Regions from separate parts of the Homo sapiens genome. Here all the other regions are linked to region 1. The links come from fine-mapping of genetic effects on gene expression. A gene starts in region 1. Each other region holds a variant in brackets. All regions are shown on one strand. Distances are between the middles of the regions. Region 1 holds the start of CHPT1 (choline phosphotransferase 1). Region 2 holds the start of LOC105369938 (a long non-coding RNA gene). Region 3 holds the start of LOC124902997 (a long non-coding RNA gene). Region 4 has its middle 12 kb from the start of ARL1.

The links. PIP is the estimated chance that this variant, and not a neighbour inherited with it, causes the effect.
Region 2: its variant is fine-mapped to the expression of CHPT1 in monocytes (TOPMed, PIP above 0.99). The same link has a PIP of 0.9 or more in blood mononuclear cells, non-classical monocytes and tibial nerve.
Region 3: its variant is fine-mapped to the expression of CHPT1 in thyroid (GTEx, PIP above 0.99).
Region 4: its variant is fine-mapped to the expression of CHPT1 in lung (TOPMed, PIP above 0.99).

The regions. Positions count from the first base shown.
Region 1 is chr12:101,693,064-101,701,169 of GRCh38, reverse strand. It overlaps CHPT1 (choline phosphotransferase 1), which reads right to left and starts at 3,530. Exons shown (of 9, transcript NM_020244.3): 1 at 3,036-3,530. The coding sequence starts at 3,308. It also overlaps a transcript of MYBPC1 not described here. RefSeq lists silencers at 2,797-2,986, 3,247-3,586 and an enhancer at 3,807-4,056.
Region 2 is chr12:101,613,136-101,621,243 of GRCh38, reverse strand. It overlaps MYBPC1 (myosin binding protein C1), which reads right to left. Exons shown (of 32, transcript NM_002465.4): 2 at 6,713-6,748; 3 at 4,001-4,042. LOC105369938 (a long non-coding RNA gene) reads left to right here and starts at 5,460. Exons shown (of 5, transcript XR_001749279.2): 1 at 5,460-5,541; 2 at 6,051-6,690. The variant G/T (reference allele first, on the strand shown) is at 4,809.
Region 3 is chr12:101,739,852-101,747,959 of GRCh38, reverse strand. GNPTAB (N-acetylglucosamine-1-phosphate transferase subunits alpha and beta) reads left to right here. Exons shown (of 21, transcript NM_024312.5): 21 at 719-2,461. The coding sequence ends at 796. LOC124902997 (a long non-coding RNA gene) reads right to left here and starts at 3,970. Exons shown (of 2, transcript XR_007063424.1): 1 at 3,931-3,970; 2 at 2,993-3,172. RefSeq lists enhancers at 3,883-3,992, 4,113-4,202. The variant T/C (reference allele first, on the strand shown) is at 4,582.
Region 4 is chr12:101,415,955-101,424,062 of GRCh38, reverse strand. No RefSeq gene overlaps it. Among named protein-coding and RNA genes, the nearest start is that of ARL1, 12 kb to the right of the region's middle. The variant C/T (reference allele first, on the strand shown) is at 3,731.

The DNA.
Region 1 (8,106 bases):
TTCCTTATTGGAAATGATGGCTTGAAAAGCAGTTTGCAGAAGCTAAATATAAATCACAACTTTTTTCTATTAGTTTCCCTTTATCCCCAGTCATGTTCTAGAAATTAGCATCATGCTTAAAAACGTATCAAATGTTATTATTCATGCACTCAGTATTAAAGCCTATATGAGTAGATAAGCCCAAGCATCTAAATCGAAAAACCTTATGTGTTTTTGCTGACTCTTTCTGGAAGCAATCTGTCAAGTCTGAAAAAAACACTAAGAATTCTTAAGTCTGAGAATCAGAAAACAAGTCCCAAGCCAGTTGAAAGTCACTTGACATCTCTGGGCTTCAATTTCCTCTTATGAAAACATATACTACTGTTACTTCAGGATAGATGGATAGAAGAAATACTGAGGTGGTAGGAGGGCCATTGTAGGAAGCGGAAAACTTGCTAACCTCTTTGGCTGATAACAAGACACAAATGCAACCATGGATGTGAAAGCACTTTACATATTTGTATTATGTAAAACATAGGATCTTTTTATTTTTGAAGTCATACCAACTTAGATCTGAATCCTACCTGATCCAGTCATTTGCTAGTTCTATGAACTTAAGAGAAAATAGCCAGAAACTGCTACACTCTTCACACTGTTGCTGGGCTTTCACCAAACAAGCAATGTGGATCCTGTAATGGCGTTTCCCCTCCCTGCATCAGTCACTCAGAAGCATATGAAGGTTCTAGTGACATACATTTCAGAAACTCTTGTTTTTAACTCTCATTTACCCTTCTTGGGCCATTTGATTTTGCACTTTATTTTTAAATGCCTCCAATCCCCACCCTCCACCCTTTTTTTTTTTTTTTTCACATGAGGCTGATCCTAAAAACTAATTAATCATAAACGTACCTCTTCCATCAGGCCTCCCTTTACTTCCCTAGGCAGAAGCTCTTGACTTTTTTGGTAAGCCCTGCTCTTTCTAAGTGTTCAACAAATGCTTCTTAAATTAATAATAACATTGAAGAGTCCACAACTTAACTGGCCAATATCAGAAACATTCAAATGCTGTTAGCTAAATCTGGACCCAATCAAAACTAAATTTTATTATGTGTTTTCAGGATGTTGTCTGATAACAGTAATATTTTTAATGTGTTGAGTGATATTTTTAATTTGTTAGGCACATCGCAATCTTTTACATTTATCTGCATATATATCATTTGGTCCTCACTGCATCCTTGTCAAGTTGTTTTGGCAGGCATTATTTTCTATTGTATCTGTGGGAACACAGACCCAGCAGGTCTGTGGTGGAAGAGCCAGTTAGAAACCAAGACCTCCACTTCCAACCCAGCTATCCTTTCATTCTAACACACTCCCTCTGGTAAATTCTAGAAACAGGCAGCAAAACAGCCAAAAACTAAAGCAGCTTACTTTTTCATATGTAATATGTAAATGAATAGCAATGGCAAATGACAATGGGAATGTCTATTAAGAAATATATAATAAGCCTGGCGCAGTGGCTCACTCCTGTAAATACCAGCACTTTGGGAGGCCGAGGCAGGCGGATCACTTGAGGTCAGGAGTTCGAGACCAGCCTGGCCAATATGGTGAAACCCCGTCTCTACTAAAAATACAAAAATTAGCCGGGCGTGGTGGCAGGCACGTGTAGTCCCAGCTATTCAGGAGGCTGAGGCAAGGGAATCGCTTGAACCCAGGAGGCAGAGGTTGCAGTGAGCCGAGATCACCACATTGCCCTCCAGCCTGGGTGACAGAGCGAGACTCTGTCTCAAAAAAAAAAAAAAGAAAAGAAATACATAATAAGCATACCAATCCATTGACAAGATATTTTAAAATGTAGGCTCGATCAAATTTTTGTTTTTAAAGGATGCATGAGCCTGGCCAACATGGTGAAACCTTGTATCTACTAAAAACACAAAAGTGAGTCGGCCGTGGTGGCACGCGCCTGTAATCCCAGCTACTTGGAAGGCTGAGGCAGAAGAATCGCTTGAACCCTGAAGGCGGAGGTTGCAGTGAGCCGAGATCGAGCCACGGCACGGCACTCCAGCCTGGGTGACAGAGTAAACCCCTGTCTCAAAAACAACAACAAAATGGATGCATGCATGGAGGGCATGAAATATTTCCACTGTATTTCTGTTAATCCAACCTCAACCTCCATGAGTCCTCCACAAGGCCTACACTCAAATGATTATAAAGGGACTTCACTATTTGGAGCAGAGAATAGAAAGTAATGTCACAGAATGTGCAATGTAATATTTATCCCACGTAGTATAAACTATAGATGGGAGTGAACTCCACTCTGCCCCCTATCCCTCCACACTCAGCCCAAAGGGTGCTTCTGATGAACAGCTATCCAAAGCCTATATTTACTCCTTATTTTGTACAAAGGTCAAATGTAATTATTGCTAATAAAATGTTGGGGTTTTTTTAATCCCTAGGTTGTGATGACAAAAAAATTATTGCCTTGATAACATTCCAGTTTGTTTTTCTTGAAAAAGTCGATGAAGCAAAGAGGAAGTTACCTCTTAACTCATCTTTGATCAGTGCTACCGGTCATTTCAAGATCACTAGCTCAACCTTCCAGAAACGAACGGTTACGAAAGTATTCAAAGGGCGTCTCGGGCTTGGCACAAGTCCCTGTGCCAGGCAGGACGGAGATGGGGGTGTTCAGTCCCCAGTGTGCAAAGCACCCGACCGCGGGTCCGTCTCACAGGTTGGCGCCGCATGGGATAGCGGCTGGGCAGGCGCCCTCCGGCCCGTCCGCGGCCGTGGGGAGGATCTGCGCGGACATAGGACCTGGGGCAGTGACCTTAACAGCCCCTCCGCTGCCCAGGGGAGGCTTGGGATGGTCACGGGATTGGGATAGTGGCGTGACAGTCTCCAGGCGGCCCAGGGCGGACACCGCCCGGGGCAGTGGCCAGTCCGCCCCTCCGGGGCCCGGGAGAGGCTCAGCCGCGCGTGGGTCCGCCCTTCCCCCGGCGCCTCCAGCGACCCGCCCGCAGCGCATCTGGGGCCCGGCTCGGGCGATCGGCCAGCCCTACCTCTTCGGTGGCCGTGGGACAGTAGGAGATGAGCACGAGCGTGGTGACCACGTTGACGGCGAGCCCCAGCAGGGTGATGGAGTTGGGGGCCATCCAGAGCGGGATCCACTGGAGCAGCCAGGTCCAGTAGAGCTGCAGCGGCGGCTCGAGCAGCGAGACGCCCGCCGCGCTGTAGCGGTGCTCCTCCAGTCGCCGCAGCTGCGCCGCGCTCAGCGGCTCGCTCAGCGCCCTCAGCCAGCGCGGCGCGGACCCGGCCCCGGCGCCTGCCGCCATGGCCGCCTGAGGGCCCCGCCGCCGCCACCGAGCGCAGCCCGCGCCTGGCGCTGGGGGCAGGGAGAGGTGGAGGGAGAGGCTGGCGGCCGGGTCCTGCGACTGCCGGGCTGGACTCACCGGTCGGGCCCGCACGGCGGAGGTCGAGGTCAGGCCGGCCTGCCCGGCTGCCGGGGCCCCAGCCCCAGAAGCTGTGGGGCCGCGGCTGCGGCTCGCGGGTGGGGCGGGGCCTCGGGGAGGGGTCCGGCTGGGGGCGGGGCGGAGGGGGTCCTGCTAGGGGCGGGGAGGCGGGTGCCGCGCTCGCGGGTCACCCTCGGCGCCCGCCAACGGCAACTTGTTATCGGCGATCAAGGTCCTTGACTCCCCAGGGGCCGGCTGCACTGCGCCTGAGGTCTGATGTCTTAACCCACGGCGTCGGATTACGCCCTGAGGTCGTCTCCTCGCGGGCTGCACCACGACCGAGCCGGTTCCTCTCCTAGGGGTCGGAACACGACTCCGGTCGCCCAGTGTTAGCCACTGCAGGACCACGCTGCCCGCAGAGCCTGGGGGTTTTCGTGTGAGAACACAGTTTTGCAGGGCTCGGGTCACGGGGGTGACGGCCCCATCTGTCCTGCTTGGTAAAACACACAAGCACAATTCTCCCTTTCTGTACGGAGGAAGGCGGCCCTGCCATGTATTCGCTCTAGAGACCCATCACTGCGGATTCAGAGACCAAGGTTTTGAAACTGAAAATCAGGGCTTAGAAACACTAACAAGGAGACCGAATGGCTGAAACCCCGATACCTATTTTCTTCAGCGCATTTGATACCAACAAGGGTGAATATTTTTACACATACTCTTCCCTGGAATAAAGGGCAGGAGTGTCCTCCCCCTGCAAGGGGGAACAGGCTGGCTTGCCACACGCATTGGTAGGTCACCGGCCCCTTATCTCACAGTGCACTCACTTGGACAGGGGACATCTGTCATAAACACGTTCTGTTGCACAACCTGAGACAGGCCTGTCACTTGCTTTGCTCTTCACTTCATGGCTCTGATCTGCACGCACTTTCTAAGGCCTAGGACAAGCCAGAAATTGCTTCCAAGACACTTGTGTGGCGCAACCTCTATCGGCAAGTGCAGTTTGCCTCACGGGCTTCGTCAAACACTTGGCACAGGGGTCCACGAACTGCTGCCTGTGTGCCAGACCCAGCCCACCACCTGTTTTCCTACAGCCCTCCAGCTAAGTATGGTTTTGACATTTTTAAATGATTGGAAAAAATCAAAAGAATACAATTTTGTGTTGTGAAATTATATGAAATTCAAAGTTCAGTGCCACGAATAAAGCCATGTTTATTCCTTACCTATTGTTTGGCTGCCTTCATGCTACAAGGGCAGCAGAATTCAGTTGTGACAGACCGTATGGCTGGCAAAGCCTGGACTATGTCCTACTAGGCCCTTTAAGGAAAAAACTGGCAACCACTGCCTTAGAGCAATGAGGGTCTCTACAGACCAAGCGTATATGTCTTAGGAATATGGATCTCCTCATCTTTAGTGTGAAAAACGATGCTGACAAATGCAGGAAAGGAAATGGAATGATGGAGATCCACTTTTAACAATGCTGGTTTATGTGCAGTGAACTTGACAGTAACTACTTTTTAATTTACCGATGCCATGAACAGTCCAAGGAAAAAATCCTTTTCTAGATTAGCCGATTTCACTGTATTAAAGATAATTTTTAATGTACATCAAAAGACGTCATCAAGAGAATGAAAAGACAAGCCATAAACTGGGAAAAGGTATTTCCCTCAAAACCCACAATGAGTAGAACCCAGATTATGTAAAGAACTCCTAAAAATCAATCAGAATAAAAAATAATCAACTGGGCTATGTTCTGTTTCTATAGGAGAAGCCCTGGAACATGGTAATGTTCCAGGGTGCACTTATGAACATGAGTGAATTGCACAAGCATATGTTGACTGAAAAAAAAAAAGAAGCAGGTGTATTAGTCAGCTTGGATTGTCATAACAAAATACCACAGACTGAATAGCTTAGACAACAGGAATTTATTTCTCTCTCACATAAAAGAAGTACAGAATTGGCACTCCAAGACTGGTACGATGTTTCCATGGTCATCAGGAACTCAGGCTTTTCTGTCTCTCTGCTCCAATATCCTCTCTGACTTGTATCTATAAGGCCATCTCATGATTCAGAATGGCTGGTGAAGCTCCAGTCATCTTATTTGTGTTTCAAGCAGCAGGAAGGAGTAAGAGGACAGGAAAAACAAAAAGTAGATATCACTGGCTGGTGAGCAAACTGGGGTGCCTCTCCAAAACTCCCAAACAACACTTCTCCATACAGTAGTCTCCCTTTGTCCCTGGTTTTACTTTTCTGCAGTTTTAGATACCCACAGTCAACCACAGTCCAAAAATATTAAATAGAAAATTCCAGAAATAAAGTGTGAGTTTTAAATTGCATGCCATTCTGAGTAGCGTGATGAAATCTCACCCAGTCCCACTCTTCTCCACTCAGGACTTACATCATCTCTTTGTCCAGTGTATCCCTGCTATATAAGCCACCTGTCCTTTATTCATTTATTAGCCATCTTGGTTATTAGAAACAACATAGTACATATAGGGTTCGGCATTATCCATAGTTTCAGGCAACAGTTGTGGGTCTTGGAATATGTCTCTGGAGATAAGGGGACTGTTGTATTATGTATCTCATTGGCCAGAACTTAATTATGTGGCGTACCCAAGTGGAAGTGTTTGCTAGGAAGAGTAGATGGTTACAACCACTTGAAAAACAACCTGGCATGATCTGGTGAAGTTGAAGATGTGTGTACTCTGACACCACAATTCTGATCCAGAAACAGATCCTAAAGAAATTCTTGCACATGTATCCTAGGAGATAAGTATAAGAATACTCATGACACCTTTGTCTGTACAATAACTAAAAGCTGTAAATAACTTATATGTCCACTAATATTGAATGGGTAAATAAACTGGTATTTTCAAGTAATTTAATATTATATAGCAAGTTTAATATGGCAGTAAAAAATTAATGAACTATAGGTACACTTATGAACATGAATGAATTGCACAAGCATATGTTGAGTGAAAAAAAAAAGCAGATGTATTAGTCAGCTTGGATTGTCATAATAAAATACCGTAGACTGAATAGTTTAAACAACAGGAATTTATTTCTCACAGTTCTGGAGGCTGGGAAGTCCAAAGTCAAAGTGTGTTTCTTAGTGAGAACTCTCTTCCTGGCTTGCAGATGGCCACCTTCTATGTCTTCACATGACAGACAGAGAGAGAAAGAGAGGAAGCTCTCTGGTGTCTCCTTATAAAGTCCTTATAAAGGCACTAATCCCATCATGAAGGCCCCACCCTCATGATATCCAATATCCTAAAGGCTCCATCTCCAAATACCATCACATTGTGGAGGATTACGGCTTCAACATATGAATTGGGGGTGGAGCAGGGGCAGGATACCATTCTGTCCATAACAGCAGGCCATAGGCAAAATACACACAGTATTATTTTACTTATATAAACTTCAAAAACATGTGACTGCACTTTGCAGCTCCCATGTGGCAAAGCTATGAAGAAAAGGAAAAGAATTATAAGTACAATCCTGATAGTGGTTACTCCTGATAGAAAGGAAGGTAAATGCAATTATAGAGGGGCACATGGCAAGTTTCAAAGGTATTGGTAATTTTTTAGACTACAGCTGGGCAAACTACAGCAACCTAAATGGAATAGAGGTTTATTTTTCCCACATTGATGTCTGGGTAGGCATGGTAGGGCTACATGGCAGCTCGATGGTGTCAGAGACACAGACTTCTTCCATTTTATTAGTCTGCCGCCTTTCAGATGTTGCCCTTGTCCTTGTGATCAAAAATGGCTGGCCATGACTCCCAACCAATAGGAAGGGGAAAAAGAGAAGGGGCTGCTATGCTCCTTTCTTCTGAAGGCCATGATCAAAGGTTGCACACATCACTTCTGCTCTCATCCCATTGGCCAGAGCCTGGCCACATGGCTGCTATGCCTAACTGTAAAAGAGCCTGCAAATGCAATCTTTAGCCAGACAGCCACCTGCCCAGCTAAAATTTCTTTTACTTGTTTATTTATTTATTTATTTATTTAGAGACAGATTCTTGCTCTGTCACCCAGGCTGGAGTGCAGTGGCGCAATCTGAACTCACTGCAACCTCTTCCCAGGTTCAAGTGATTCACCTGCCTCAGCATCCTGAGTAGCTGAGACTATAGGCATGTGCCACCACACCCAGCTAATTTTTGTATTTTTAGTAGAGATGGGGTTTCGCCATGTTGGCCAGGCTGGTCTCAAATGCCTGACCCCAAATGATCCTCCCGCTTTGACCTCCTAAAATGCTGGGACTACAGGTGTGAGCCACCACAATCGGCCAAAACATTTCTATTATTATTGAAAAGTGAGAGAGTGGGTATTGTGGGGGGCCATCAAGCTGTCTCAATCACAGTTTTTTAACTGAGTAGTAGTAACATGTTCATTTTACTATTATTTATGCAATCTATGTAACTATATATCTACATAGATATAGATGGCATATTTGTATATTTTGCAAATATGAAATGTCATAATTTAAAAATAGTGAAAGTAGGCTGGGCGCGGTGGCTCACGCCTGTAATCCCAGCACCTTGGGAGGCCAAGGCGGGTGGATCACGAGGTCAGGAGATCGAGACCATCCTGGCTAACACGGTGAAGCCCTGTCTCTACTAAAAATACAAAAAATTAGCCGCGCGTGGTGGTGGGCACCTGTAGTCCCAGCTACTCGGGAGGCT
Region 2 (8,108 bases), 80 kb after region 1:
CATTACAAAGAAGTAATGTAATTAGAATACATAGATTAAGCATGGAGAAATTTTAGTAGATGGCTGATTGACACCTAAAGGTAAATCGTACAAAAATATTTTAGCATGCTAGTAAAAAGCACCAGGGTAATGTTATTGCAGATGTAAAAGAACCTAAATTTTTTTAAAAATCATTTTTTTAAATTTAAAACAAAATCACATAATTCAGGTTGGAACTTCTGCTGACTCACTTCCTCATCTGCCAGTCACATTCATGAAAAAGAAAGACTTCATCTCAGGTTATGTGAGATATTTAATACACACAGGGTTCATTCACGATAGTTTATGTGGTGAATGCCTGGGAAAAGAAAATAAGGTTTTATTTCCCTTTTCACGATTACCAAAAGCAGTAATAAAAAAAGGAAGTAACTTTACCAATTGAAAAGATACAGACTCTAAGCTAATAAGATGTAAAAATAAAATATCAGCACTTAGGCATGGAAATGAGTACAGGTCTTCAAAGTGGCCTCTGATTCTAATGCTGCTGTCACTTTTTGGACCAGCCACAGAACCATTTTCGGAACTTTCCACAGGGCCAGCTGTTGAGGCACAGCAGAAACCTACTCCAATTACCCTATGTTCAGACATAGGATGTTGGATCTTAGTTGACAAAAAAAAAGTATGATCCCACTTGATCACCCACGTTATTCCCTACACATGGCCCTCTGTGACTCTTGTCTGCTTTCAAAACTGAAATCCACCTTCCTCTGTTGATGGTTGTTCTTCCCCATAAAGTGTAACTTGGCTCCAGGAGGGCAGGACCCAGTGCCCAGATCTGTGCCTGGCATGTAGCCAACACTCAGCAAATCTTGCTGAATAAATACGTGCTAGAATAAAAGGCGAATCTTTGGCCCCACTGAGCATACAGAAAAGAATCTATATTTAGTGTTCCATCAATTTGCTACCTATAATTATTATGAAAGAATTCTAAGCCAGGACAGCGTTATTTGTATAAAGGCATTGCCTCCTGGTATGATTCCTCTAAAGGAGATTTGCACATCTAATTTCTGCTATTGCTGTTGGGCTAAACACATTTCTTTATTGTCATCTCTCTTGTTTCAATTCCAGAAGACTTTGCCCAGGTCCCAGGACAAAGTGGTCAGTATTAAGGAACAGGATAGCTGGATGGATAGCCAGATGCAAGCAAGCAAGCAAGCAAACAATCATAAAACCCCGTGCTGGGAAATTGGCTGCTTTCCAGACAGAGACTTTTAGCAAATATGAAAAAGTTGGCAAATCTAATCACAAATACTACTTCTAAGATTAAATCTTCTAGAATCTACTCTCTGTGGCTTCAAAAAGCATTTTCAGAACATTTCTGAGCTGTTGCAGAATGATTCAATCAATCTGGGAATGATGTTAAGGCTGGATTGCGATGAATAATATTCTTAATAGTGACAGATTTGGAGCAATTAATTGAATATATGTCAACCAATTAAATAGAAGACCAGTTAAAGTGCTGAAAATGTACCAAAATCCAGGCAAGACCATTTTCAGTAGCTTTAGGCAAGTTGGTCTTACAGTGGAAATCATCCTTCTGTTCTGCAGCAGTGTCTCATTCTAACCCTCAGTGACTAAGAACATACATAGGATGTTCATCCTCCTACCCAGCACACATGTTGAATGGAAATAAAAATCTATCCAGATTACCATTGAATGGTCAGCAGCTAAGCCAGCATGGAAATTCAACTGCTCATTCATTTTGCAAGTATTCATTAGATGATTGCTATGTGCAGCTCTCTGCCAGATGCTGGAGGGAATAAGATGAGGGGGCCAATGTCAAAAAGCTTACAACCTGTTAGGAAAAGGAGTCAACCATTAATGTGCGATTATGTGGAGACAAGAGTGATTGAATGATGGAGGCAACAGGTCCAAGAGAAATCAGGAGAAAGAAGGGGAGATAAAAGTAAGCCAGGATGGTCAGGAGAAAGCTGTTCAAAGAAGTGAAACCTGAGTTGGATGGTTAAAAAAAAAAAATAGACTGACAGTTGGAGGAGGGAGGGAGAGCAGGAGAGTTCTAGCTCATGCTGGAGAAAAGGTAGGTTGCACCCATCAATCCTGTTTATGCTCGTGCAGGGCTCCTTTCTCAACTGGGGATATCCAAGTAGCAGTAATTATTGTGTCTACTTTTTGCATAGGTATTTTCTCTGTCCTTGATGAAGAGGACTGTATATTTATTATAAACTTCCATTCACTTACCTTCTTTATTTAGGGATGTCACTTTCTATCCCAAATTGATTTGCTTCCTAGGTATGTAAGGCAAATACATATATATATACATGTATTTGCCATTATATAATATATATACAGACACACACACACACACACACACACACACACACACACACACGGCAGTTTTTGTACCTGGGCATGCAACTGCATGTGGTCATGGTTTTGCTTATCTTCTGCAAACGTCAGAAAAATGCTACTAATTTCAAAATGCCCTAGTCATCTAGCCTTGCTCTTTCATCACGCTGTGTTCTCCATAAATAAAAGAGTTTTTGTTGGTTGGTTGACTTTAAGGAAAGACATTTTCTCATTTAAGCATACAAGTATAATATGGTGACTTTTCAAATTAAGGGTCAGGCACAGGCTTTGTTTAAACTTTGACAGCTTGCCCTCTGGGATTACATCATCTGCTCTGTTGGTTGAGCCTTGCAGCCTGGCCCAAACACCTTTCCAAATTTGGAAACAGAGGTGTATGCCCATTGGCCTTGTAGAGAATAATATTACAATAATTTCAGCCAGGATGCCCAAACCTCCTTGAAACCATCCCATGGAAGGAGTTCTAGGAGTTTGCACTGTCTGCATTCCATAAGCAAATAACCTTCAAACTGCGCCCACGTGGCCAGGATTAGTATTCATGTTACTCTCCATGGGAGCCACTGAAGGTCAAGGACAAAGTGAGTATACTAACGTTATGCGTTCATTATGAGAGCATAAGTTCAAGTTAGCTGAAGGAAAGTAATCCAATCTACTGAAAGAAAGAAAAAAGTATTTTACTAATGTATAGGACACAAGAATATCATAGAAATTAGATAATGAAATATGACACATCAAGAACAAAGAGATACTTAACATGGTTTTGAGCAGTGTCCAGGAAAAAGAGAAACTTCTTGTTGCAGTCAGGAAATAGTTATTCCAAAATTTAAACTTTTTTATTCATTATGCAAATAAAAGGTTCACTTTTAAAATGACAATACAAACATATACAGCAAAGCTGTCTAATCCACCTTCATGAAACTTCCCTCTATGAAAGACTAATGCTCCTTAGCTTAAGACAGATGGTCAGTAATGATAATCATTTCTTCCATGGTGAGACAAAGGAATTAGCATTTCATGGAGTAACAGAAGTATATGATTAAGATTATTTTCTAAAATGAGACTATCTCCATATAAAGTAAAAATAGGATAATATTACAGGAATAGTTTCCAGTTCAAGAAGGGGCAACATGTCTTCTTAATGTTATATTGTGTATCTGTAGAAATCATTATATAAATCTACATGAATACATAGTCAGTGTTACAAAGTGAGATGCTAGCCTTCAAAATTATTAGTGAACCCTGGAACAGTTCACACAATAACATGAAAACATTTAATTTAAAAAAAAACCGGGTAATTCAGATAATTTTCCCAATTGATATAATCCTAAGAAGACCAAACACCTCTCTTTCTTAGCATGCATGTCGAAACTTGGAAACTACCAATTAATTTGCTGGCATCTCAACAAGTGCTTGTGATATTTTTATCATTGTTGTTTTTCTTTTAGAAATACATGTAATGGAAACTTAGCAATGCACCATTTGTCATTATACTGATTGGGACTTGCAGATAAGATGCAAAGGCAGAACGAAAGATAATGCAGAGAAATTCTATGGAGCCACCATGACAATCATTACTGACTTCTTTCTGCTTCTAATTTTGTTGACTTCAGCCTCACTCTCCCTCCCTCCAACTCACCTTTTGCTGGTGTAGTTCCGGCCTCCTTCTCTTTACTTGGTTCTGTGTAGAAAGTACAAGCATATTTTTTAAAGTGCCTTAAAGCATTTTATTGTGTGATGAGCAACGGGGTGGAGAGGGGGAGGGAAGAAATAAATGACAGCAGAACAGGTCATAAATGATACTGAATACTCGTGCTGTACATGAATTATGAATTTAGAAATTATAACTTAGAGCCACACTAAACTTTTAGTGAAAAGCAATTAATCTGATCATTTTTGGAAAAGTACACATAAGAACACTCAATACAGATTTTGTTAAAATGCACTCAACTATACTTGGATCATGTTATATAACATGCTGGAGTAGAATTAGGCAAAACAAATGTGAGCCACTTTATTTTAGACCTCAGCAAGGGACTGACTTTTTAAAGAAAAGTCAGTTTGCCCCATGTAATGATTCCAAGAGTTTGGACTTCTAGATTTTCTAGTAAAGTACAAAATATGTAATTGTGTGCAGTGTATGTTGCTTCAAAGAAAATGTTTCAGTGTCCATGTGAATCTTCTGGATTGGGTTTAGTGGCAATAAATGCAAAACAAGAGCAGTAACATCAGATTCTACCAGTTGAGACCATCTAGTTTGCATTTCTCTGTGTTTGGGATCATATTAGTTTAGACCTGCAAATGGTATCTGACTTATGGAATCAGTAAGAAAAGAATTGTTTCAAGAATGCATTCTCTTTTTTCGGACTGATGAATGGAGATTCAAATCTCAGTTAACTAAGAAGGACAATTTTAGCAGAATTTGGGAGGAGACATTTGAGCAACAG[G/T]AAGTCAATATTGTGCAATGAATATGAAATATGACATACAAAGGAAACGATAGTGGCTCAGTGGCAGTAACTGATCTGAAAAACAGAAGGGAAAGGTTTGTTTATAATGGCCAGTAGGTTCTCAGTGTACTCAATGTTGGTCAAAGTACATTTGTTATGGGCAAGGAGAAAACATACCAAGGAACAGGAAGATCCTAAGAAGAATGTCACACATCTACACTAGTTTCAAGATCAAGATCTAAAGAAAATAAATCTGAGCTTTCCCGTTTGAACTCATATGGCACTGAGCCAGTTTTCGTTCATTTCGACACATAGTAATACTTCTCTATACTGTTTAGGGTTTGAGTGTGTGAATCTAGTATTCTTAGCTGGACAAAGGGCCTCTTGTGAGCAGCTAGATTTCTCAAACTGCCCTCCTGAAAAACAATCTCTGCTTGCGCCCAAGAGTTTGAGGCTGCGGTGAGCTGTGATGGTGCCACTGCGCTCCAGCTTGGATAACAGAGCAAGACCCTGTCTCAAGAAAGAGAAAGAAAAGAAAAAAGAAAACAAAGAAAAAAGAAAAACGATCTCCAGGGAGGAAGAGGAAGAGCTTTATAATTGCCTCATAAGTTTTTGTGTGAAAAGATGATTAGAAACTGAGACCTTCTCCAAACTCCTGCTTTCACCTAAGCTGGACCAGGTCTACAGTCACCTGCTGGCTTCATAACACATTGCCAGTTTAAGCAACTCACAAGTAATCACATACTGCTTGGTGTGGGGGGGCGGGGGGGGGGCGGGGGGTTCTTATAATATTGCCTAATGTTTTAATGTTTTGGCTGCATTTTATTTAATTGTTTCCCAGGCTGTATTCTATTTTCTACTTGGCTGCAAACAAACTGAATACAGGGAGATGTTTTCTATGTAGAGTTCCCCACTACATCTGGTACAATATGCTTGCACCTAGCTATCAATACGTACATGATAGGTATGTCTGAATCCCTCTGAAGGGTTAGGTCAGAGTTGTGCACAGGGTAAATACCTAGTGAATAATTATTGAGTGGGATGCCAGTTTCTCATCCTTTTCAAGGAGGAAGAGGGATGAGGAAGGCCACTTTGGAGTCTTTATGGGAAAATGCACATGATTTTGGTTGCTTCCATCTTGGGGCTATTTGGCTGATAAATGACTCTGAAGAGCCATGTTGGGAGTTTAAGCCACATTGAGCTTTCAATCTTTTAATCTTTTAATTTTCTTTTCTTCTTTAGGTGTATGTGGACATAAAAACAAGCTTCATATATTGTGTGTCATAGGGGACTGCCCTACCTGCCAAGGGTCTCACTGGATCTCTGTACTCATTTCCTGTTGCCAGCTGGTGGACAATATGGTGCTAAGAACTCAAGAAGTTGGTCCTCACGTTGAACCTCAGAGGTCACCAAACCTTTCTGGATAGCTGCTAGGGAGTTTCTGGAGGTGCTCAATAGTGACATATGTCAAGTTGAGAAGGGACAGCTGATCTTCCAGGGTAGAGATGGATCCACTCCCCACTCTCATAAAGAAGATGTGGGTTTGTTTGACCTTCACTATATAGGAAAAAGCCTCACAAATTCTTCAGCCCCTTGGATGGAGGCTCAGCCTCCACACTGTAAAATGCGGACATAATAACTTTTACATAATTTGAAAGGTTTCATAAGAATTGTCCCCCTAATATATATGAAGTGCCATCCAAATTAGATTAACACAAGAGGATTATATAAACACAGTGTATTATTTTTATTATTCTCAACTTATCACAATGGTCACCATCCAACTTCTCAGTAGGAGTTAGGTTAAAGCTCACAGCTCACAGCACCCGTGGAGGCCAAATCATGCTGGGATGGACCCTCTGTATTTGCAGCCCAAACGTGTGTGAGTGAGTGTTTTTACTCACCTTCCGGGGGTGGGGCTGGGGCTGGCACTTCATTTTCTAGAAATGGAAAGAGTCATGGAAATGTCAGGCTCATTTATCACAGAGAAGAACTGCTTTCTACAGCCCCAGGCAGCTTCTGCTGCAGGCAGCCATCTCACCTGTGTGTACTCACAAGAGGGATGGAGGAGGGAAACACATTCTCTCTTCTCTCTCTCTCTCTCTCTCTCACACACACACACACACCCTACTGCATCAAGAGGCCCAAGACATACATGCTGCCATTTATGTGTGGTATATAGATTTCCAGGAGGTGGCATGGTGTAGTGATGGAAAGATAAAGGTAGAATGGGGATCCGAGTGTCCTTGCCACTTAGTTATCCCCTCCAGAGGCAGGCCGGGCATTTACTTGTGCTGAGCCTGTTTTCCTGCCTCTAGAGAAATGGCCGCATCTTATATGGGCAGGACTGCTGTTAGGATGAAGTGAAACACAATGGGTAGCAAGCATATGGTGAGCATATCCCGTAGAGTCTAAGGTAAGGTCGGTGCAGAAATGAGACCCCTTTTTCCCAGAAAGCAAGAGCACCACTGCATCGCCAACATTGTTCTGCCTGCATGAGAGACACTTTCTGAAAGCAGATGACATGAAAGTCCTCTGGCTTTGCAGTGCTTTGTTGTTGTTGTTTTACAAGGACGGTGCAATTCACTGGGAAACAGAATTAAGCCCTCTCAGAGTTGTTTCTGGAAGCATACGTGCTTGGAGTAGATTCCCACCTACACCTATCCAAAATTTTCCAGGCTCTGGTTTTGAGGTTTGGTTTTGGTTTACCTGGCTTTCGATGTCTGGTTATTACAGAGCAGTCTGGCTATGAAGTCTGACAAAGAAACTTCTGTTAAAGAACATACTATTTCCAAGTAGGTAAAGGCATCCACATGAACAAAGAGCATAGCATTTCCCGTGCCAAATCCCTGTGGATGCCCAGAATTGGGAATTAGTGACATGTGAGTATCACTCACTCATGAACCACCTGCTTCATCTCCAGGACAAGAAGAGGCAGTTAATGAAGGTGATCGCTTCTAAAATTATCTTCTACTTGATTACTAAATAAAATATAAAGATAACAAAGTTTTTGTATTATAGGCACATTGTGGAATCCTGGGAGCCTTTGTCAGCATATGGGATTTTCCACATTTTTTTCCACAAGTGACTCTTGTTAAGCAGGGCGGACGATGCCCCATAACAAGCAGTTTGGCTGAACAGTCACCACTATGTGTAGGCCAAATGCCCCGTTCTAGTCTAGGAAGGCTGGAATGAGCATAGAAAAATGAATGGATTGCACCGTAACAGAAATCAAGAAAACAGTAATGCAGGCCTGCCAGGATGCAATCATGTCTTTTTCCATCACTGATTTTGGGGCTA
Region 3 (8,108 bases), 47 kb before region 1:
CTTTCCTCTATCTATACCAGTAGAGAATAGGGAACTAGAGAGGCAGTCTTTCCTCTATCTATACCAGTCTATCTATACCAGTAGAGAATAGGGAACTAGAGAGGCAGGAAGAGGGAAGGGAAGGGCAGGTTAAATCCCAACACTCTGCTCTCTACTGGAGTCAAACTCCTTCCTCCTGCCATACCTGCCACCTTCACAAACAAAGCAGCCAATGCTGCCTCTTCCTCCCCTCCCAAATTCCAGCTCATCATTCAAACCGTGGTGTCTTATGTTTGGGCAAAGCCCTGCCTCCTCCTACAGATGAAGGAATAAGCCATCATATCAACCCAGAGACAGTGTCTTATGGCTAAATAGAGCCAGTTTCCTTCAATAGAAAGACTTGACAAATGGACATCTTGAAAATAAATATGCTTTGGTAATAGCTGTGTAAAAATCTGTAGTTGTAGGTCTTAGAAAAATGAAGCATGGGCCGAAATAATTTTAATCCTCTTGGGTCTCTTTGTGGGCACATATCTAGGCATACTGTCCCTACAAAGCTAAACAAAACTAATATTTGTTTTTGTTTTGGAAGAGGAATGATGGAGATTTGTTTGTTGTCTTTTTAATGTATAAGATTGTGGAAATGATTAAGGTCATATGGCTCTTAGAAAGTTTGATGCACTTATATTCTTTCATCAACGTGAGAATTAAAATGTATTTTCTGTCTTTCATCATTTAGTTAATTGCACTTAAGCGGAAGATATTTCCCAGAAGGAGGATACACAAAGAAGCTAGTCCCAATCGAATCAGAGTATAGAAGATCTTCATTTGAAAACCATCTACCTCAGCATTTACTGAGCATTTTAAAACTCAGCTTCACAGAGATGTCTTTGTGATGTGATGCTTAGCAGTTTGGCCCGAAGAAGGAAAATATCCAGTACCATGCTGTTTTGTGGCATGAATATAGCCCACTGACCAGGAATTATTTAACCAACCCACTGAAAACTTGTGTGTTGAGCAGCTCTGAACTGATTTTACTTTTAAAGAATTTGCTCATGGACCTGTCATCCTTTTTATAAAAAGGCTCACTGACAAGAGACAGCTGTTAATTTCCCACAGCAATCATTGCAGACTAACTTTATTAGGAGAAGCCTATGCCAGCTGGGAGTGATTGCTAAGAGGCTCCAGTCTTTGCATTCCAAAGCCTTTTGCTAAAGTTTTGCACTTTTTTTTTTTCATTTCCCATTTTTAAGTAGTTACTAAGTTAACTAGTTATTCTTGCTTCTGAGTATAACGAATTGGGATGTCTAAACCTATTTTTATAGATGTTATTTAAATAATGCAGCAATATCACCTCTTATTGACAATACCTAAATTATGAGTTTTATTAATATTTAAGACTGTAAATGGTCTTAAACCACTAACTACTGAAGAGCTCAATGATTGACATCTGAAATGCTTTGTAATTATTGACTTCAGCCCCTAAGAATGCTATGATTTCACGTGCAGGTCTAATTTCAAAGGGCTAGAGTTAGTACTACTTACCAGATGTAATTATGTTTTGGAAATGTACATATTCAAACAGAAGTGCCTCATTTTAGAAATGAGTAGTGCTGATGGCACTGGCACATTACAGTGGTGTCTTGTTTAATACTCATTGGTATATTCCAGTAGCTATCTCTCTCAGTTGGTTTTTGATAGAACAGAGGCCAGCAAACTTTCTTTGTAAAAGGCTGGTTAGTAAATTATTGCAGGCCACCTGTGTCTTTGTCATACATTCTTCTTGCTGTTGTTTAGTTTGTTTTTTTTCAAACAACCCTCTAAAAATGTAAAAACCATGTTTAGCTTGCAGCTGTACAAAAACTGCCCACCAGCCAGATGTGACCCTCAGGCCATCATTTGCCAATCACTGAGAATTAGTTTTTGTTGTTGTTGTTGTTGTTGTTTTTGAGACAGAGTCTCTCTCTGTTGCCCAGGCTGGAGTGCAGTGGCGCAATCTCAGCTCACTGCAACCTCCGCCTCCCGGGTTCAAGCAGTTCTGTCTCAGCCTTCTGAGTAGCTGGGACTACAGGTGCATGCCACCACACCCTGCTAATTTTTGTATTTTTAGTAGAGACGGGGGTTCCACCATATTGGTCAGGCTTATCTTGAACTCCTGACCTCAGGTGATCCACCTGCCTCTGCCTCCCAAAGTGCTGAGATTACAGGCATAAGCCAGTGCACCCAGCCGAGAATTAGTATTTTTATGTATGGTTAAACCTTGGCGTCTAGCCATATTTTATGTCATAATACAATGGATTTGTGAAGAGCAGATTCCATGAGTAACTCTGACAGGTATTTTAGATCATGATCTCAACAATATTCTTCCAAAATGGCATACATCTTTTGTACAAAGAACTTGAAATGTAAATACTGTGTTTGTGCTGTAAGAGTTGTGTATTTCAAAAACTGAAATCTCATAAAAAGTTAAATTTTTGTCTGACACTTTGATTTTTAAATCTTTGAGGATTGAGTTTACTGTTACTCAGATTCAGCAGTCACTTGAGTGCCTTTACTGTGTATCAGGTTCTGTGCTGAACATTACTAAAATTAAGTGGAAAGTAAGGAAAGATTAGTATTATACAGAAGAATGTTGCTTTATGGGGGGAAAATAGTTTCTAAATGGAATTTATCATATGGTAAAATTTAGGATATCTGGGTATCATTATAAAAGCTGAGATTTATTCTAGAAAAGTTAGAGAAATGAACATTTGTCTGTAATGACGATTTCTGTGGTTAGATGAATATAGTCCATACCTAATTAGGAGCTTGATAATGGGATGGATAATACAATCATAGGCTATTCATAGACTCATTCTAATGATTCTGTGATTCAGTAGAATCATTAGAACAGAGGAACCTCAGAAGTTGATGAGCAGTCAGATGGTCAGAACCATTTGTTCAAATCCTATAGAAAAGGTCACTCTGTGTTTTAGTTTTTTTGTGCTGCTGTAACAAAATACCTCAGACTGGGTAATTTACAAAGAACAGAAATTCATTTTCTTACAGTTCTGGAGGCCGAGAGTCCAAGATCAAGGGGCTAGCAGGTTTAGTTGTCTGGTGAGGGCTGCTTTCTGCTTTTAAGATGGCTTCTTGAATGCCGTGTCCTCACAGAGCAGAAGGGCAAGAAGGCACAAACTGCCTCTGTCAAGCCCTTTAATAAAGACATCTAATTGAATTGATGAGGGCTCTGTTCCCATGACTTATCACCCTCTGAAAGCCCCACCTCATAATACTTTTAAATTGCCAGTTAAGTTTCAACATGAATTTTGGACAGATAAAAATTCTGTGATACAAAAGAAGGAAGGCTGCTTCTCCTGCCTGATTCTCAAGGTGTTCCCTCCAGCTCCCAGGCCCTTCGGGCAGAGTTTCAAAACAACTGTCTGGACGAACCCTTGCTTTTTATCGGCAAGGACACCAAGGCCACGGGGATGACATGACTTGCTCAAGGTCTTACAACCAGTTAGAGGAAGAGGTAGGGTGGGAACCCGGGTTGTCCCTCTTTCCTGTCCCCACCAGCCCATGCTGCCTCCCCAGGACTGTGGCACATGTGGGTGAAGAGCACACTCTGCAGTCAGACTACGGGAGTTCAAGTCCTGGATCCTGGACACTGCTTGCCGTGATTTAGCTTTCTCTGCCAAAATGTGGGAGGCAATACTGGTAGCTACCACAGAGGCTTATGGTGATAATTAGAGGAAATGACATGTGCAACACACGCAGCCCAGTGCCTGGCAAATAGTCCTGCCTGCTAAATGTCAGTGGTGATGATGGTAATGATGAAAATTCGTGTTAAAGACTGTTGTCCAGGCCAGAGGTGAGGCTCCTAGTCTAGTCATTAGGGTGAGATGATTATATTGCTCTTAGCTAAAAAAGTGACACATTTTCTAATTACAAAGGATTTTTTTAACCTACCTTATGTCTTCAAAAGTGTTTTTTGTTTGTTTGTTTCTTTTGAGACGATCTCACTCTGTTGCCCCAGGCTGGAGAGCAGTGGCGTGATCTCAGCTGACTGCAGCGTCAACCTCACAGGCTCAAGCAGTCCTCTCACCTCAGCTTCCTGAGCAGCTGTGACCACAGATGTGCTCCACCACACCTGACTAATTTTGTTTATATTTTTGTAGAGACAGGGTCTTACTGTTATCCAGGCTGTCTTGAACTCCTGGGCTCAAGCAATACTCCTGCTTCGACCTTCCACGGTGCTGGGATTACAGGTGTGAGCCACTGTGCCTGGCAAAAGTGTTCATTTTGAAAATTATTTCTACATATACCAAGAAGTATACAAATAATAACAGATTAAGCATTTAAACTAAAGGGTAATCACTACTTACGTCAAAACATCTAAGGAAGAAACAGCACCAGTCCCACACAAATTCTTCCAGAGAGCAGAAAAAAGCAAAATACAGTATCATCCAACTCATCCCTTGAAACACAACCCCAACAGTAAAACTTGGCTCAGATACCACAAGACAAAAACCATGGGCAGTCTACTGCAAAAGAATCCCAAACAAAATACTAACAGGCCAAATTCAGTTATTCCCAGAAGAACAACACTTCACAGTCAAG[T/C]GGGGCCTACTCCAGGAATGCAAATTTGGCCCAACACTTGAAAATCAATTCACCACATCAGCAGGACCAAAAGAAACTGGATGATAATCTCAACAGATCTTTCTTTAAAAAAGATCATAAAAAATTTTAAAAAGACCAATAGATGAATTCTCATCTGCTCAACAGTTATCAAGACTTTGCCACATTTATTCATGCTCCGTTTTTCTTTGTGATATGTTTTAAGGGAAATCCCAGGCTTCCTTGTGACAGGAGTACAGAGCCATGGTGGTTAAAGGGATGTGAAGGGGGCTTCTTGTCAGTCTAATTGCTTTTCTCCTCTCACTTGCCCTAATAACAGCTATATCTTACTGTACACAATCTATGTGCTAAATGCTTTATGTTCATAATCTCATTTCATCCACACCATATCCCCACTTATCAGTGAGGGAACTGGGGCCTAACTAGGTTTAGTGCCTCACCTCAGGTCTATTAAGTTAAGAGACAGCTTTTCCACCCAAGTCTCTACAAAATTAATTTTTAGCCACTAAATAAACTTGGATTGCAAGGGACAAATCTAACTCAAGCTTCTTAAGGAAAAACAAAGAGGGGTACAGGAGGAAGATACTCTTCCTGAACCATTGCTCAGCACTGTCTATCTGTGCTTCTCTATGCACATCAGCTTTTCTCTCCTTGGTGAGGACATGGCAGTTCCTGGCTCACATACTCCAGAGAGGCAGGAAGTTTCCTCTCTGGCTTCAATATAGAAAATCCTGGTGGGAGATGAGTTACTGTGATTGGCTCATTCTGGGCTCTGTGCCCACCTCTGTAGCCAGAGGGATGGAGATTTTTACCCAAGGAAGGAGGGGAGGGATGCTGGGCTTACAAAACATCACCTTCCAGCTTCACAGATTAGAGATGGTGCAGGTGGAAGACCAAGTTCCTGGATTAGGTACTCAAGGTGAAGGCAAGCTGCCATACTTGAAAGCAATTGGAAAAATCAAATCTGTTGATAGAGAGTACAGTGAACCTTGTAAATTTTTCATTACTGAAAGGATTTAAAAAAATGTAAAGCATTAGTACAGTACCTGCCACATAATAAATGCGCCATAAATGGTGGCTTTTATGATTCACAATTGGTGCCAGTTGGAATCCTGATTTTCCTCTCTTGCCAGCCTCATTCTTGGCCTCATTGTGTCAGCCACGTTGCATTTTCCCAAATGTGCTGTGCACTTTTATGCCTCCATACCCTTAAAGATGCTGTTCTTATTACCTACTGAGTAGTTTATCTATGGAGACATTTCTATGAGTTTTTAAAAATTATTATAAATAGAGATGGGGTCTCACCATTTTGTCCAGACTGGTCTCAAACTCCTGGGCTCAAACGATCCTCCTACCTCAGCCTCCAAAAGTGCCGAGATTACAGGCATGAGCCACTGCTCCTGGCCTCTAAGATTTCGACTATATTACCTGAGTTCTTTGAGACTGAGTAAGGAAACAAGGGATGTAATATTTAGGTTTTCAAACAATAATGACAAGATTCTACACCATTGGTTACTAAAGAAAATGGGAAAATGTTTTGTTAGGAATCCAGATGATTGGAATAAATGGGTGATGATCTATATGGGGAAGTATTAACAATGTGGTCATCTAAGAATGAATGCTGAGACAGGTCATGAAATATTGGTGTGTGGGTTAAAAATCATCTATAAATTACCTGCTGAAGCACATGGTGAAATCTCCAGACATGCTCTTTACAGCAGTGAAATGCCAAGGTGCTGGAGATAATCTTGGGAAATTTTTATTACGAATAAAGAAGAAAAATGACAGATGCTCTTCTGTAAGGGTCACTGTAGGAAAAACAACTGAATATGATGATGTAGTGAATGGAACTACTTAATAAGAACAGCATCTATAAGGGTATGGAGGCATAAGAGTGCACAGCACATTTGGGAAAACGCAATGTGGCTGATGCAGTATGAGGCCAAGAATGAGGCTGGCAAGAGAGGAAAAGCAGGATTCCAATTGGGACCAATTGTCAATCATAAAAGCCACCATTTATGGCACATTTATTATGTGGCAGGTACTGTACTAACGCTTTACAAACTTTTTTGAATCCTTTCAGTAATGAAAAATTTACAAGGTTCACTGTATCCTGTATCAACAGGTTTGATGTAGTGAATGGAATTACAGGAACAAGTCTGGGAGTCGTCATCCGTCATTCCTTACCCAATACACTGGTGTATTTAAACGAGCCAGTGGAATGCTGAGCATCATAAGGAAGAGGATTCAAAGCAAAACAGTAAACAGGAGGGTTCCTTTGAATCTCTTACTTGAACTAGGCAGTTGAAAAGTGATTGGCGTCAATAAGATCCTGAAGCCTTTGCCAAATATTAAAGAAGTAAAATATAGGCCAGGCAAGTTGGCTCATGCCTGTAATCCCAGCACTTTGGAAGGCCGAGGTGAGAGGATCATTTGAGCCTAGGAGTTTGAGAACAGCCTGGGCAACATAGTGAGACCCCATCTCGGCAAACTTTTTTTTTTTTTTTTTCTTAATTAGCCAGGCATGGTGGCACGTGCATGAGTCCCAGCTACGCAGGAGGCAGAGACAGGGGGATCATTTGGGCCCAGGAAATCAAGGCTGCAGTGAGCCGTGATCATGCCATGCCACTGCACTTCAGCCTTGGCAAGAGAGCAAAACCCTGTCTCAAAAAAAAAAAAAAAAAAAAAGTAAAATGTATGATTTCAAATAGAAAAAGGATTGCAGAGCTGTGAGCAAACTAAGGCAGGTACAAAGGTTGAAATATATTTTAAAATTATTTGGGGGAAAATACATATAAGCACAGAAAAAAGGATGAAAGGCAATAATACCCCCAATTTTAAACTGTATATTATTTCTGGGTAGTGGGATTATAGGTGAGTTTCATTTCCTTCATAAATTGTATCTTCAAAAATTGTTTTGCAATTGATAGGTGATTTCCAGTTACACCAAATAATTGTTTTACAATTATACTCCCACCCACTGAATGGGTTCCCTTTGTTACATAGATTCATCATCACTCCGTGTAGTCATATTTTGTAGTTTTGCCATTCTAGTGGACTGTCAGAACACTACATAGACTATGGGACAATTTTTTGTAATGCCAAACGCGAACGAAACTAAGCCGTGTTGTTTAACGACACATTTTCATGTGGTAATAAAACTTAGAAAATAAGGAAGGGTGAATGATTTACATAAATTTAGGATAATTTTCTTATATCCCTGAATGGGGAAGGGTGGGGTCCTGGTGAGGATCGGATGGAAAGGCCTGCCTGAGGAGATTCAGTGAATGTTGGTAAAGCCCTACTTCATAAATTAGGTGGTATGTTCATCATGTTTCATAATTTACATATTATTCCGCAATTTTCTTTTTTTTTTTCTTGACATGGAGTCTCACTCTGTTGCCCAGGCTGGAGTACAATGGCATGGTCTTGCTCACTGCAACCTCTGCCTCCCGGGTTCAAGCGATTCTCCTGCCTCAGCTTCCCAAGTAGCTGGGATTACAGGCGCC
Region 4 (8,108 bases), 280 kb after region 1:
GGCTGGAGTACAGTGGGGCAATGCTGGCTCACTGCAACCTCCACCTCCTGGGTTCAAGTGATTCTTCTGCCTCAGCCTGCCAAGTTGCTGGGATTACTAGGAGCACGCCACCATGCCCAGCTAATTTTTGTATTTTTAGTAGAGACGGGGTTTCACCATATTGGCCAGGCTGGTCTCGAACTTCTGACCTCGTGATCCACCCACCTCAGCCTCCCAAAGTGCTGGGATTACAGGCATGAGCCATTGTGCCTGGCTGATTTTTAAATTTTTTATACAGATGAGGTTTCATCATGTTGCCCATGCTGGTCTCAAATTCTTGGGCTCAAGTGATCCACCCTCTTTAGCCTTACAAAATGCTGGGATTACAGACATGAGCCACTGCTCCCAGGCATCAAAGTTTCTTTATCAAAGGATGAGTTTGGCCCCCTTTTGGCTCTCTCTTGCCCTCTCTTTGCCCTTCCACCATGGGATAACACAGAATAAGGCCCTTGCCAGATGTCAGCTTCTCAGTCTTGGACTTTCCAGCCTCCCAAATCATGAGCCAATACATTTCTGTTTATTATATATAATAAATAAATAAAAACAAAAATACAAATTTAGGTCACAGGCCAGGCGCAGGAGTTCGAGACCAGCCTGGCCAACATGGTGAAACCCCGTCTCTAGTAAAAAAACAAAAATTAGCCAGGCATGGTAACGCGTGCCTATAATCCCAGCTATTCAGGAGGCTGAGGCAGGAAAATCACTTGAATCTGGGAGGTGGAGGTTGCAGTGAGCCGAGATCGTGCCATTGCACTCCAGCCTGGGCAATAGAGTGAGACTCCATCTCAAAAAAAAAAAAAAAAAATTTAGGTCAGAGACCGATCCTTTGAGATTCTGATAGAGGTTCCAGACTGTCTTTCTGAGAAAAGAATGCATGGCCCATGTGTGGTGGCTCACACCTGTAATTCCAGCACTTTGGGTGGCCGAGGCAGGCGGATCATGAGGTCAGGAGTTTGAGACCAGCCTGACGAACATGGTGAAACCCCATCTCTACTAAAAATACAAAAATTAGCCAGGCGTGGTAGCAGGCGTGGTAGCACGCGCCTGTAATCCCAGCTACTTGGGAGACTGAGGCAGGAGAATTGCTTGAACCTGGGAGGCGGAGGTTGCAGTGAGCCGAGATCACGCCATTGCACTCTAGCCCGGGTGACAGAGCGAGAGTCCATCTCAAAAAAAAAAAAAAAAATGCATGTACACACAGAGATAAAATTCTGAAAATAACTTTAATAGGTGTGCAGGCTCCCAGAAGTCTACTGTGAATTAACAGAATGTCAGGTTAAGAACCATTTGTCTCAACAAAATAAGTAAGTTTAACCAAAGAACTGTAATACCTGTTACTGAAAACTCCAAAACATTGAAAAAAATTTATATATGTATTTGTATCTCACTCTGTCGTCCAGGCTGGAGTGTGATGGCACAATCTCAGCTCACTGCAACCTCTGCCTCCTGGGTTCAAGTAATTCTCTTGCCTCAGCCTCCCGAGTAGCTGAGACTACAGACACACACCACCACGCCGGCTAATTTTAGTATTTTTAGTAGAGACGGGGTTTCGCCATGTTGGCCAGGCTGAACTTGAAATCCTGGCCTCAGGTGATCCACCCACCTCGGCCTCCCAAAGTGTTGGGATTACAGGCATGAGCCACCACTCCTGGCCTATATAATATTGTTTTTTATGGTTTTTTTTTTTTTTTTTTTTCAGACAAGGTCTCTCTCTGTTTCCCATGCTGGAGTGCAGTGGTGTGATCACAGCTCACTGCAACCTTGACTTTCTGAACTCAATCGATCCTCTCACCTCAGCCTTCTGAGTAGCTAGGATTACAGGTGTGTGCCACCATGCCCAGCTAATTTTTGTAATTTTTTTTTTTTTTTTTTTGAGAGGGAGTCTCACTCTGTCGCCCAGGCTGGAGTGCCATGGCATGATCTCGGCTCACTACAACCACCTTCTCCCAAGTTCAAGCGATTATCCCACCTCAGCCTCTCAAGTATCTGGGACTACAGGCGCATGCAACCACGCCCGGCTAATTTTTGTATTTTTAGTAGAGATGGGGTTTCACTATGTTGGCCAGGCTGGTCTCGAACTCCTGACTTCGTGATCCGCCTGCCTTGGCCTCCCAAAATGCTGGGATTATAGGCGTGAGCCACCGCGCCCAGCCTAATTTTTTATTTTTTTTAAATAGTTATGAGGTTTTACCATGTTGCCCAGGCTGGTCTCAAACTCCTGGGTTTGGCCTACAAAACCCAGGCATTGGCCTCCCAAAATGCTGGGATTACCGGCACAAACTGCTGTGCCTGGCCCATAAATGTTGTTAAGATGACAGCACTTCCTGTTATGGTTTGAACGTAGGTATCCCTCCAAAATTCATATGTTGGAATTCAACACGGTACCCTCCTCTTGACCTTATCTATGGGGGATATGTTTCAAGACTCCCAGTGGATGCCTGAAACTGCAGATAGTATCAAACTGTATATGACAATGCTCTGGAGCGCCCAGGACTAGATCTCCTCACTGCTGATTACTAAGAGTACTGCATCAGAGTACAAAGCATGGGAGTCAGAAAATGAGTAATATGGAAGGGAGGGTTGGAAAAAGCAAAGGCTTCTTTTTGGCATATCAGAATGGCCAGGATCACTACTCTTGCATTTTGGGGTGATTTTCTTTTCTTTTTTTTTTCTTTTGTGACGGAGTTTCGCTCTTATCGTACAGGCTGGAGTACAATGGTGCAATCTTAGCTCACTACAACCACTGCCTCCTGGGTTCAGGTGATTCTCCTGCCTCTGCCTCCCTAGTAGCTGGGATTACAGGCATGCGCCACCATACGCGGCTTATTTATTTATTTATTTATTTATTTTTGTGAGATAGAGTGTTGCTCTGTTGCTCAGGCTGGAATGCGGGGCACGATCTCGGCTCACTGGAACCTCCGCCTCCGGGGTTCAAGTGATTCTCCTGACTCAGCCTCCTGAGTAAACTGAGATTACAGGCACACACCACCATGCCCAGCTAATTTTTGTATTTTTAGTAGAGTCGGGGTTTCATCAGGTTGACCAGGCTGGTCTTGAACTCCTGACCTCATGATCTGCCACCTCAGCCTCCCAAAGTGCTGGGATTACAGGCATGAGCCACCGCGTCCCGCTAATTTTGTATTTTTAGTAGAGACGGGGTTTCACCACATTGGTCAGGCTGTTCTCAAACTCCTGACCTCAGGTGATCCACCTGAAGTGTTGGGATTACAGGCATGAGCCACCGCGCCCAGCCTGGGGTGATTATTAAGCAAAACAAGAGTTGCTTGAACACAAGCGCTGTAATACTGTGACAGTTGATTTGATAACTGAGATGGCTACTAAGTGACTAGCAGGTGGGTAGCATATACCGCAGGGATATGCTGAACAAAGGGATAAAATTAACATCCAGGACAGCACAGAGCAGGATGGTGTGAGATTTTAACATGCTACGCAGAATAGCAAGAAATTTAAAACTTATGAATTATTTCTGGAATTTTCAATTTAATATTTTTGGACCGAGGTGGACCATGGGTAAGTGAAACCTCGAAAAGTTCACCACAGATAAGGGGAAACTACTCTATTTATGTGACAGTGTTAAGAGGTAGGACTTCTATTGAAGGGATTAATTCACAAGGGCTCTGACCTCATGTATGGATTAGTACTATTTTTAAAAAAGTTGAAGGGGGCCGAG[C/T]GTGGTGGCTCATGCCTGTAATCCCAGCACTTTGGGAGGCCGAGGCAGGTGGATCACGAGGTCAGGAGGTCGAGACCATCCTGGCCAACATGGTGAAACCCCGTCCCTACTAAAAATACAAAAATTAGCCAGGTGTGGTGGCACGTGCTGTAGTCCCAGCTACTTGGGAGGCTGAGGCAGGAGAATCGCTTGAACCTGGGAGGCGGAGGTTGCAGTGAGCCGAGATCTTGCCATTGCACTCCAGCCTGCTGACAGAGTGAGACTCCATCTCAAAAAAAAAGGTAGAAAGGAGTGCTCCATGCCTTTTGTCCTTCAACCATATGAGAAAGGACCAAGAGGCGCCATCTTGGAAGCAGATAGCAATCCTTACCAAGCACCAAATCTGCTAGTGTGTTGATCTTGGACTTCCCAGCTCTAGAACAACGATAAATAAATTTCTATTGTTTATAAATTACTCAGTCTAAGGTAGTTTGTTATAGCAGCAGGAAAAAGCTAAGACATTTCCCAAATTAATCTACAGATTCAATGTAATCCCTATAAAAATTCCAACTGCCTTTTTTTTTTTTTGCAGAAATGAATAAACTGATTCTAAAATTCACATGGAAATGGAAGGGACCCAGAATAGCCAAGACAAAGTAGGAAATGAACAAAGTTGGAGGACTCACACTTCCTAATTTTAAAACCTACTACAAAGCTACTATAATCAACAGCTACTTTGGAAGGCTAAGGTGGGAGGATCACTCAAGGCCAGGAGTTTAAGACCAGTCTGGGCGACATAGTGAGGCTCCATCTCTGCAAAAAATTAAAAAATTAGCCAGGGATAGTGTTGCACACTCATAGTCCTTGCTATTCAGGAGACTGAGGCAGGGGGATTGCTTGAGTCCAGGAGTTTGAGGCTATAGTGAGCTATGATTGCACCATCATACTCCAATCTGGGCAACAGAGTAATGCTCTGTCTCAAAATTAAAAAAAAAAAAATCAACACGGTGTGTGTGGTACTGGCACAAAGATAAACATATACATCAATGGACTAGAATTGATAATTCAGAGGTTGGGCACAGTAGCTCATGCCTGTAATCCCAGCACTTTGGGAGGCCAAGGTGGGTGGATCACTTGAGGCCAGGAGTTTGAGATCAGCCTGGCCAACATGGTGAAAACCCGTTTCTACTAAAAATACAAAAATTAGCCAGGCATGGTTGTGTGCACCTGTAATGCCACCTACTTGGGAGGCTGAGGCATGAGAATCACTTGAACCCAGGAGGTGAAAGTTGCAGTGAGCCAAGATTGTGTCCCTGTACTCCAGCCTGGGCAACAGAGGGAGACTCTGTCTCAGAAAAAAAAAAAAAAAGAAAATTCAGAAATAAACTTGTAATGTAGTAATGTGAAATGAATACTGACTTTTTTTTTGTAAAATTAGTTAAAATTATTTAAAAAAAGAAAAAAGATGGGCCAAGTGTGGTGGCTCATCTCTGCAATGCCAGCAGCACTTTGGGAGGCCAAGGCAGGCAGATCACTTGAGCTCAGAAGTTTAAGACCAGCCTTGGCAACATGGTGAAACCCTGTCTCTACTAAAAATTCAAAAATTATCTGGGTGTGGTGGTGCACACCTGCAGTTCCAGCTACTCAGAAGCCTAGGTGGGAGGATCACTTGAGCCCGGGTGGCAGAGGTTGTAGTGAGCTGAGATTATGCCACTGCACTTCAGCCTAAGTAACAGAGCAAGACCCCATCTCAAAAGAAAAAAAAAAAAAGGGAAAAAAGAAAAAAAGAGGCTGGGTGCAGTGGCTCACACCTGTAATCCCAGCACTTTGGGAGTCCAAGGTGGGCAGATCACCTGAGGTCAGGAGCTCAAGACCAGCTTGGCCAACATGGTGAAACCCTGTCTCTACTAAACATACAAAAAATCAGCCAGGCGTGGTGGCAGGTGCCTGTAATCTCAGCTACTTGGGAGGAGGAGGCAGGAGAATCACTTGAACCTGGGAGGTGGAGGTTGTGGTGAGTCGAGTTTGCACCACTGCATTCCAGCTTGGGCAACAGAGTGAGACTCCATCTCAAAAAAAAAAAAAAAATTAGCCTGGCGTGGTGGCACACACATGTAGTCCCAGCTACTTGGGAGGCTGAGGCAGGAGAATCGATTGAGCCCAGGAGGTGGAAGTTGCAGTGAGTGGAGACTGCGCCACTACACTTCAGCCTGGGCGACAGAGAGAGACTCTGTCTCAAAAAAAAAAGAAAAGAAAAAAGAAATTTATATTACCTATGATCAATTGATTTTTGACAAGGTGTGAAGACCATTTAATGGAGAAAGTCTACTTTCTTCAACAAAAGGTGCCAGGACAACTGGATATTCACATGGCAGGGTTTGTTTTGTTTTGTTTTGTTTTTTTGAGACAGTCTTTCTCTGTCACACAGGCAGGAGTGCAGTGGTGCAATCTTGGCTTACTGAAACCTCCACCTCCCAAGTTCAAGTGATTCTCCTGCTTCAGCCTCCCGAGTAGATGGGATTACAAGCATGCAACACCACACCTGGCTAATTTTTGTATTTTTAGTAGAGACAGGTTTCACCATGTTGGCCAGGCTGGTTTCAAACTCCTGGCCTCAAGCGATCTGCCTGCCTTGCCCTCCCAAAGTACTGGGATTACAGGCATGAGCCACCCAAGCCTGGCCAAGCAAATGAATTTGGATCCATATTTCATACGATTTGCAAAAATCAACCCAAAATAGAAAAAGATCAAAATATAAGAGCTAAAACAATAAAACTCCTAGAAGAAAATACAACTGTAAATCTTTGTGAGCTTGGGTTAGGCAATGGTTTCTCAGATATGATACCAAAAGCACAAGCTACAAAAGAAAAAAGTAGATTTTTTTTTTTTTGAGAGTCTTGCTCTGTTGCCCAGGCTGGAGTGCAGTGGCACAATCTTGGCTCGCTGCAACCTCCACCTCCTGGGCTCAAGGGATTCTCCTGCCTCAGCTTCCTGGGTAACTGGGATTACAGGTGTGTACCACCACACCTGGCTAATTTTTGTATTTTTAGTAGAGACGGGGTTTCGCAATGTTGGCCAGGCTGGTCTTGAACTCCTGACCTCAGGTGGTTCACCTATCTCGGCCTTTCAAAGTGCTAGGATTGCAGGCATGGGCCACCACACCCAGCTGAAAAAAAAAATAGATAACTTGTATGTCTTAGTCCATTTTGTGTTGTTATAAAAGAATATCGTAGACTGAGTAATTTATAAAGAAGAAAAAATTACTTCTCACAATTCTGGAGGCTGGAAAGTCCAACATCAAGATGCCTGCATCCTGTGAGGGCCTTCTTGCTCTGTCATCCCATGGCAGAAGGTGGAAGGGCAAGAGAGCATTCTTGAGAGAAAAGGCAGAACTCGCTTTCATAACAAACTTACTCTAGTGATAACAAACCCACTCCTTTGATAACAACATGAATTCATTCATGAGGATAAAGCCCTCATGATCTAATCACCTCATAAATGTCCCGCTTCTCAGTAGTGTGGCATTGGGGATCATGTTTCCAACACATGAACTTTGGAGGACACATTCAAACCAGAGCACTGGACTTCAACAAAATTAAAAACTTTTGGCCAGGCGCGGTGGCTCGAGCCTGTAATCCCAGCATTTTGGGAGGCCGAGACAGGTGGATCATGAGGTCAGGAGATCGAGACCATCCTGGCTAACACGGTGAAACCCTGTCTCTACTAAAAATATAAAAAAATTAGCTGGGCGTGGTGGCAGGCGCCTGTAGTCCCAGCTACTCAGGAGGCTGAGGCAGGAGAATGGCATGAACCCAGGAGGCGGAGCTTGCAGTGAGCAGAGATTGTGCCACTGCACTCCAGCCTGGGCGACAGAGCAAGACTGCATCTCAAACAAACAAACAAAAATTAAAAACGTTTGTGTGTCAAAGGGCATGCTCAACAAAGTGAAAAAACTCACAGAATGGGAGAAAATATTTGTAAATCATAAATCTGATAAGGATCTAGTACACAGAATATATAAAGAACTTTTACAACTCAACAATAGAAAAATAATCCAACTAAAAGATGGTCAAAAGACGTGAATAGACATTTCTCCAAAGAAGATATATGTATGTCCAATAAACATGTGAAAAGATTTTCAAAATCATTAGTTTTTATCAGCAAAATTCAAATCAAAACCACGATGCAAACCACCTGCTAGGATGGCTATAATTTAAAAAGTGGAAAATAAGTGATGGTGAGAATGTGGAAAAAACAGAACCCAGATGCATTGCTGGTGTGAATGTAAAATGGCATAGCCACCATGGGAAATAGTTTGGTAGTTCTTCAAAAAGTTAAACATACATATGACCCACCAATTCCACTCCTAGGTATATACCCAAGAGAACTGAAAACATAT